Linked DNA regions of Homo sapiens. The protein of the gene in region 2 interacts with the protein of the main gene of each other region in a pairwise test. Each region holds a gene or a part of one and is shown on either strand. Other genes may lie near its edges.

What was found.
Region 1: the proteins of ASPH (region 2) and DHRSX interact in binary tests that used the Homo sapiens proteins (3 or more experiments, as listed by UniProt).

The regions. Positions count from the first base shown.
Region 1 is NC_000023.11:2,490,977-2,494,476, reverse strand, and holds part of DHRSX (polyprenol dehydrogenase), read left to right. Parts: intron 1-3,500. UniProt on the Homo sapiens protein: Oxidoreductase that plays a key role in early steps of protein N-linked glycosylation by mediating two non-consecutive steps in dolichol biosynthesis.
Region 2 is NC_000008.11:61,515,593-61,519,092, forward strand, and holds part of ASPH (aspartyl/asparaginyl beta-hydroxylase), read right to left. Parts: intron 2,532-3,500; coding exon 2,440-2,531; intron 2,070-2,439; coding exon 1,936-2,069; intron 1-1,935.

The DNA of each region.
Region 1 (3,500 bases), on a different chromosome or scaffold from region 2:
CTCAGCCAAATAGTAATAAAATAGAATATAAACTTTTGTTCTGTTACTGGGACCTCTTTCAGCCTAATAACAAAAGTAATAATAATAGAATAAAAACCTTTGCTCCAGGTTCTAGAACCTCTTTCAGCCTAATAATAATAATAATGATAGAATGAAAATTTTTGTTCCAGGTGTCGAGACCTCTTCCAGCCTAATAATAATAATAATGTAATAATATAAGCCTTTGCTACAGGTACCAGGACCTGTTTCAGCCAAATAATAATAACAGCAATGATAATAGAATATAAACCTTGGCCCCAGGCACTGGGACTTCTTTCAGTCAAACAATCACAATAATAATAATAATAATAGAATATGGATGTTTGCTCCAGCTTTCAGGACCTCTTTCAGACAGATAATAATAACCGAGTACAAACTTTTCTTCCAGGTATCGGGACCTCTTCCAGCCTAAAAACAATAGTAATAATAGCATATATATCTTTTTTTTTGTTTTCTTCTTTCTTTGAGACGGAGTTTTGCGCTTGTTGCCCAGGCTACAGTGCAATGGCGCCATCTCGGCTCACTGCAACCTCTGCTTCCCGGGTTCAAACGATTCTCGTGCCTCAGCCTCCCGAGTAGCTGGGACTACAGGCATGTGCCACTACCACGCCCGGCTAATTTTGTATTTTTAGTAGAGGAGGGGTTTCACCATGTTGTCCAGGGTGGTCTCAAACTCCTGACCTCAGATGATCCACCCACCTTGGCCTCCCAAAGTGCTGAGAGTACAGGCGTGAGCCGCTGTGCCTGGTGCCAGCATAAAAATCTTTGCTACAGGTACTGAGACCTTTTTCAGCCTAATAATAATAACAACCGTAACAATAATAATTAGAATATAAACCTTTGTTACTGGTACTGGGACCTCTTCCAGCCTAATCTTCATAATAATAAAAATAATAATAATAATGGAATTGAAACCTTTCCTTCAGGTTCCAGAACCGCTTTCAGCCACATAATAATAATAATAATGATAATAATAATAATAAATAGAATTTAAACTTTTGTTTGAGGACTGGGACCTCTTTCAGCCCAATAGCACAAATAATAATAATGGAATGTAAACCTTTTCCTCCCAATTACCAAAACCTGTTTCAGCCAAATAATAATATGATGATGATGATGATGGAGGATCTGATACAGCTGTGTCCTGTCACTCAGGTCGGACTTAGGAGGCCTCTTGAGATTCTTTTCCCCCTCCGTTGACTGTGTAATCCAGGGGCCCCACCCTAACTCGGCTGCAGAAGATGCAGTTTGGGGGTTCCTCGTTTTGTGGAAGTCCCGGTCATGTTATTCATTCTCTCAGCACCTTAGAACAAACCAGGGTGCTGGCATTGGCCACAGGACCCCCCTCCTTGCACCCCAGTCTTGGGAAGTGGCACTGCTGGGCTCTGGCAATGCCCAGCTCACCTGGCACGTGGCGGCGTCTCCCTAAAAAGCACTGGGCGGGCACCGTTGACGGAAAGCCAGCAACGCAGGCCGCGACTGCCCGTGAAGACGGGGGGCCTTTCTAAGACCTCCACTCATTATTTCGGGCAAAATTAACCTTCAGAATACCTTGCTTTAATAAAGTACCAGAAACCGGAGGGCTTAAAACCATAGCTTATTCTCTCCCAGTTCTGGAGGCCAGAAGTCTGTAATCAAAGTGTCTCAGGGCTGCGCTCCCTCCGGAGGCTTACGCGGAGGGTGCTTCCTGCCTCTCCCAGCTCCTGGGGGCTCCTGGCGTCCCTGGGCTTCAGGCCAGCCACATCATCACTCTAGTCTCTGCCTCTGTCTCCATGTGGCCTTCTCTGTGTCTGTGTCTCCTCTTCTGTCTTTTATAAGGACATCTGTCACTGCATTTAGGGCTCACTCAAATCCCGGATGATCTCATCTCCAGATCCTTAACTCATGAGATCTACAAAATTTCTAATAACCAAGTAAGATCTCATTCCACATCCTGGGCTTTAGGCTGTGGACAGATCTTTCTGCGGGCCACTGTTCAATCCACCATGATTTTATCCAGTTCATTGTGGAGGCTCTAGAGGAGGATCCTTCCTGCCTCTCCCAGCTCCTGGGGGCTCCAGGCGTTCTGGGTTTGTGGCCGCATCACTCCAGTCTCGGCCTCTGTCTCCATGTGGTCTTCTCCTGTGTGTCCGTGTCTCCTCATCTGTCTTCTATTAAGGACACTGGTCACTGCATTTAGGACCACCTCAATTGAGAATAATCTCATCTAAAGATCCTTACCTTCATTATTAATACATCTGCAAAGACCCTTTTTCCAAACAAGGTCCCATACACAAGTACCAGGTGGATACAGATTTTCTTTGGTAGGGGAGGACGCTTTTCAACCCACTATAGTCATCATTGAAATATGCCTCCTTGCACTGACTGTATCCCAACACTCTGAACGTGCCTGGGTGGTGCATTTTGATATTTACCCTCCTGAGCACTGTACTGGACACTTGGAGACACAATTACACCTTTTAACAAAGCCCAGCTGTCATTTTGGGCAACCCAGTCACAGAGGTGGCCTCCTGAGTGGCAGCTGGAAGGGCCTGTATGTGTGAGCATTCAACCTCAACAGGAACCCTGGGGACTGGCTTCTGGGTCATCTAAGCCTCCACACCGACTGCCTGATGTTTGCACAGGTGTGTGATATTTGCCCAGTTGGGCCTTTCTGCCCACAGGTGTGACTGGACACAATGGGCATTTTGAGAAGTTCCAGGGATTGAGAAATCCATGCTTCTTCAGACGTGCTTACAGATCACGGATGCACCTGTGACGTTCCACATGGCTTCATTTTAAACCATAAAGTTTGAGAAGAGTGTGCAGTGCCTCTTAGCCATAGGAAAGCTGGCTTTAGTCAGATGGAGGTCCTGTTTGGCTTCTTTAATGCAGTGAATGAAGCTCAGGTGGCATTCAGAGAGTCCTGCTGTGATGGTTGGCAGTGGGGGGTCTGCCTGGCCACTTGTGGATTCTTCTATGTAGGCTTCATCCCCAGAAAAGATCTACGCAGCTTTCCCACGTGGCAGGTGCTTGGGAAACTCTTAGGACAGGAACAACAAGCCCCTGCGATGACAGAGGCATTGTCAGGCTGGGCGCGGTGACTCACGCCTGTCATCCCAGCACTTTGGGAGGCCAAGGCGGGTGGATCACCTGAAGTCAGGAGTTCGAGACCAGCCTGACCAACATGGTGAAACCCTGTCTCTACTAAAAATACAAAAATTAGCCAGGCGTGATGGCAGGTGCCTGTGATCCCAGCTACTGAGGAAGCTGAGGCAGGAAGATCGCTTGAACCCGGGAGGCGGAGGTTGCAGTGAGCTGAGATCACGCCATTGCACTGCAGCCTGGGTGACAGAGCGAAACTCTGTCTCAAAAAAAAAAAAAAAAAAAAACTAAAGGCACTTGTCAGGTACAGCCCTGCAAAAATGCCGTGCTCACTCGCAAACCTGTATGTTGACACGTGCGGCATCGCTGCAGTCGGA
Region 2 (3,500 bases):
TCTCCCCTGAGTGCCAGGTCTCTATTTCCAGCCACCTCCTGGATGGTTCTACAAGTGTGTTCCAATAGCAACTAAATAAAATACATAAGCACTAAATTCATCTTCCTTTCCTTGAACTTGCCTCATGCCTCCCAAATTCCCAAGGTTTGCTCAAGCATCGCCACCCTCCACTGTCCAAAGACTGCAATTGCAGCAGCATCTTGGATGCCCCATTCCTGTATCACACATTCAAGAGTCACCTCTTGCATCTGCTCTCTAGTCTCCATTTCTTTCCAGCATCCCAATTCCAGCTCTGTTTATCTTTTGGGTGGGCTGCTGTGACAGCCTGCTAATTGTTCTTCCCACTGTCCCCATAGGATTCACCCATGGGTTCCACAGTAACTTCCTAACAAAGGTCTGATCCCATTAGTTTGGGATTCAAAGCCTCCTATGATTTAGTTTCTAAAAGACTCTTTCACTTTGCAACCTTATTCTTTATGTACCATACACTGCTGGCTGCTGAATTATTATTCAATATTCTTCATATGTGGCCATAATTTTTGGCCTCTGTGCCTTTAATGGATACTGTTCCAGAATACCCCTCTTTAGCTTTCAATGTCCGAATCCTTCTTGTCTTTAAAAACCACCACTCTGCAAGTTGAGTGTCTGTGAGCAGGTGAGGCTCCTGCTCATGGAGCCATCTGTAGTATTTTTAGCTTATCTGTAGAGAGGCCATCTGTAGTACCTCTTCTATGACCACGGTGGCCTTCAATCTTGTGTTATCTTCCTGAGCAGACACACCTTGCTAGGTGTCCTCAGAAGAGGACGGCCCCTTCTGAGTCATCTCTGAATTTCCCACAGCACCATGGGCTGCCCAGGGCAGTTATCTGCCAATAATCAAATAGACAATTCTGCAGACCCCTGAACACTCATCCTCCACTCAGACCTCTACTAAGAACAATAAGAAATGTGTAAGACAACAATAACTTGCTTTCTGATCTCCAGGAGCTTACATACAGCTTGCTATGGAGATAAGGGTAATATATATTAATGAATAAAGAGTAATAGAAGATAGGAATGGGATTACTGAGGATATATACTCTGAGAGGTTCTATTTTTATAAAACTAAATTGGATCTTAGTAATAGGTTTATTTTGGACAGGTGAAAAGACGGGCATTCTAGGGACAGAGATTATCAGCATCATAGGTACAGAAGCCAGAGCAAGTATGGTTTGTTCAAAAGATCATGAATAAACATGTCAGGATTAGGAAAGTAACACGCAAGGGAGGGAGAGGAGATCTAACATTCATCACGTCCCGACTGATACCAGAACATGGACTGAGCACCTTATAGGCATTATTCCAGTTAATCCATACAACAACCCTGCAAAGTAGATGTTATCACTGCCAATTTTATAAGCAAGAAGGCTGATGTTTGAAGGGATTAAGTAACTAGCCAAGGTTACACAGGTTAGGTGTTAGAGCTGGGATTTGAAAAAGGCAGCCAGCTTCCATTGCACCATACCATCTCCTCTATATCAAAACGTATAAATATCATGGGGTGAGTTCTTCAGTTAGGGGTACTTCTTGTAGTCATGAATAAGTCAAGTTGCAAAGCAGGAAGCACAATGCATAACATCTGCAGGGCTCAATGCATGTTGGCTGACTCTGAATGCACATCTGTCTACCCAGAGAGAGAAACAAGGCAGCTCCTCAACTAGATAAGTACTCTGCCGAGAAATAATGGAGGAGGGCAGCCCTAGAGCTGGGCAATGTCTCCAGGCTAATAGAAAGCACCAAGAAGGGATATAGACTTAAGAGTTTGGATTAATATCACTTTGCTCCAGTCTACTTCAGCTACAAAAGAAGATAAGTAATCCAAAGGAACACAACTGTGTTGTAACAAACTCTCATCCTCTGAGGTGACGGATATGACGGATAACAGAGGACCCATACTTGGTCTCGTTGGCACATCGAATCTTGCAGCCTTCCTTGGGAATCACCAAGCCCAGGTGCATTCGGAGCCTGCAGTTTGTGGGCCCTGTGTGCGGCCACACGTGAGTCCCGGGGTGCATGATGGAATATTTGATCTGCATAGAAAACATGACACTCCATTCAGCCATTTATCAAGGTGTGGAGGAACTGCTAAGTTAAGGTGACAGTACAAAATTACTGTCAGTTTGGATTAGAGCCTTTGTAAGATTTAATATTTATATTCAAGTCTTATTTCTTTGTGAAGGAACTAAAAATAAGCACTCACATTTTCCACAAAGCTATAAACACTGAACATTTTCCACCCTCAATTCTGACGTCAACCACATAAAATTATGTTTCAGTAAAAAGGGCATGTAAAAAGAGGCATTCATTGGGCCAAAGGAAACAACCATTTCTTTGTAAAGGTCAACACGCCCTTATTCCTAACAATTAATTGTATTCTCCCCAGCACGACACTCTTGGTACCTGTCCTCTTCTGCATCCTGTTGTCTCGGGGAACTTTTCTAGTAAGGTACAGGTTTTAGGAGCTCCTTTGCAGGCATTTTCATTTCTTCTTCCTAGAATAAATAACATAATTGTTGGAAACAAATCACAGTAAAGCTTAAACTTATCCCATTTAGATGAGGTGAGAGCTATATGTCATCCTCACTGCAGGAATGAGAAGATTGAGTAAACATGAGAAGATGAAGTAGGAATGCAAAAGGCTTATTGGAAATAAATAAAAATTTATCAATAAAGAAGACGTGTCTTGCTCCAATAGGTAGTGACTGGCAGAGCAGGGATCCAAATTCTTCACTCGGTGTTGGACTATTTGACTAAGAATGTCTAACAGACAAGACACAGGTTAAAGGCCTTTGACCTTGAATAACACAGGGATTAGGGGCTTCGATCCTCCATGCATGTTAAGTTTTGACTCCCCAAAAACTTAACAACTAATAGCCTACTGTTGACTGGAAGCCTTACCCTATATCATAAATAGTTGATTAACATATTTTGTATGTTATATGTATTCTATACTATAGTCTTACACTAAAGTAAGCTGAAAAAAAGAAAATGGTATTAAGAAAATAATAAGGAAGAGAAAATACTTTTACAGTACTGTACGGTATTTTATCGATACCATAAGTTTACATCATCTGTTTACAAGATGAATTGAATGTCTGAAATGGCCTGCAACTACAGGTACAGACCTTAATCTACAGTACATATCAATCAATTCAACTTTTTCTTGTAGGGTCATGACTTTTCTCTGCTTCTTGGCAGCGTGTCCATCATCATTAGTTGCTCTTTGTATAGGTCCCATGGTGTTATTCGAGGTTTGCAGCATTGCATTAAACACAAGGAAAAATACACAAGAACCATAAGAGACCACTTTTCACCGTGATATGCAATTTACCAGAGAGAGGAACTGCTCACATGGAGACGACAGTATCACATGGTATTTTAAGCAGATACTGAAAACACTTGAGCTTGCCGAATAGCAACAGGAAGCAGCTATGAAATTATTACAGTAGTATAATCTGTAC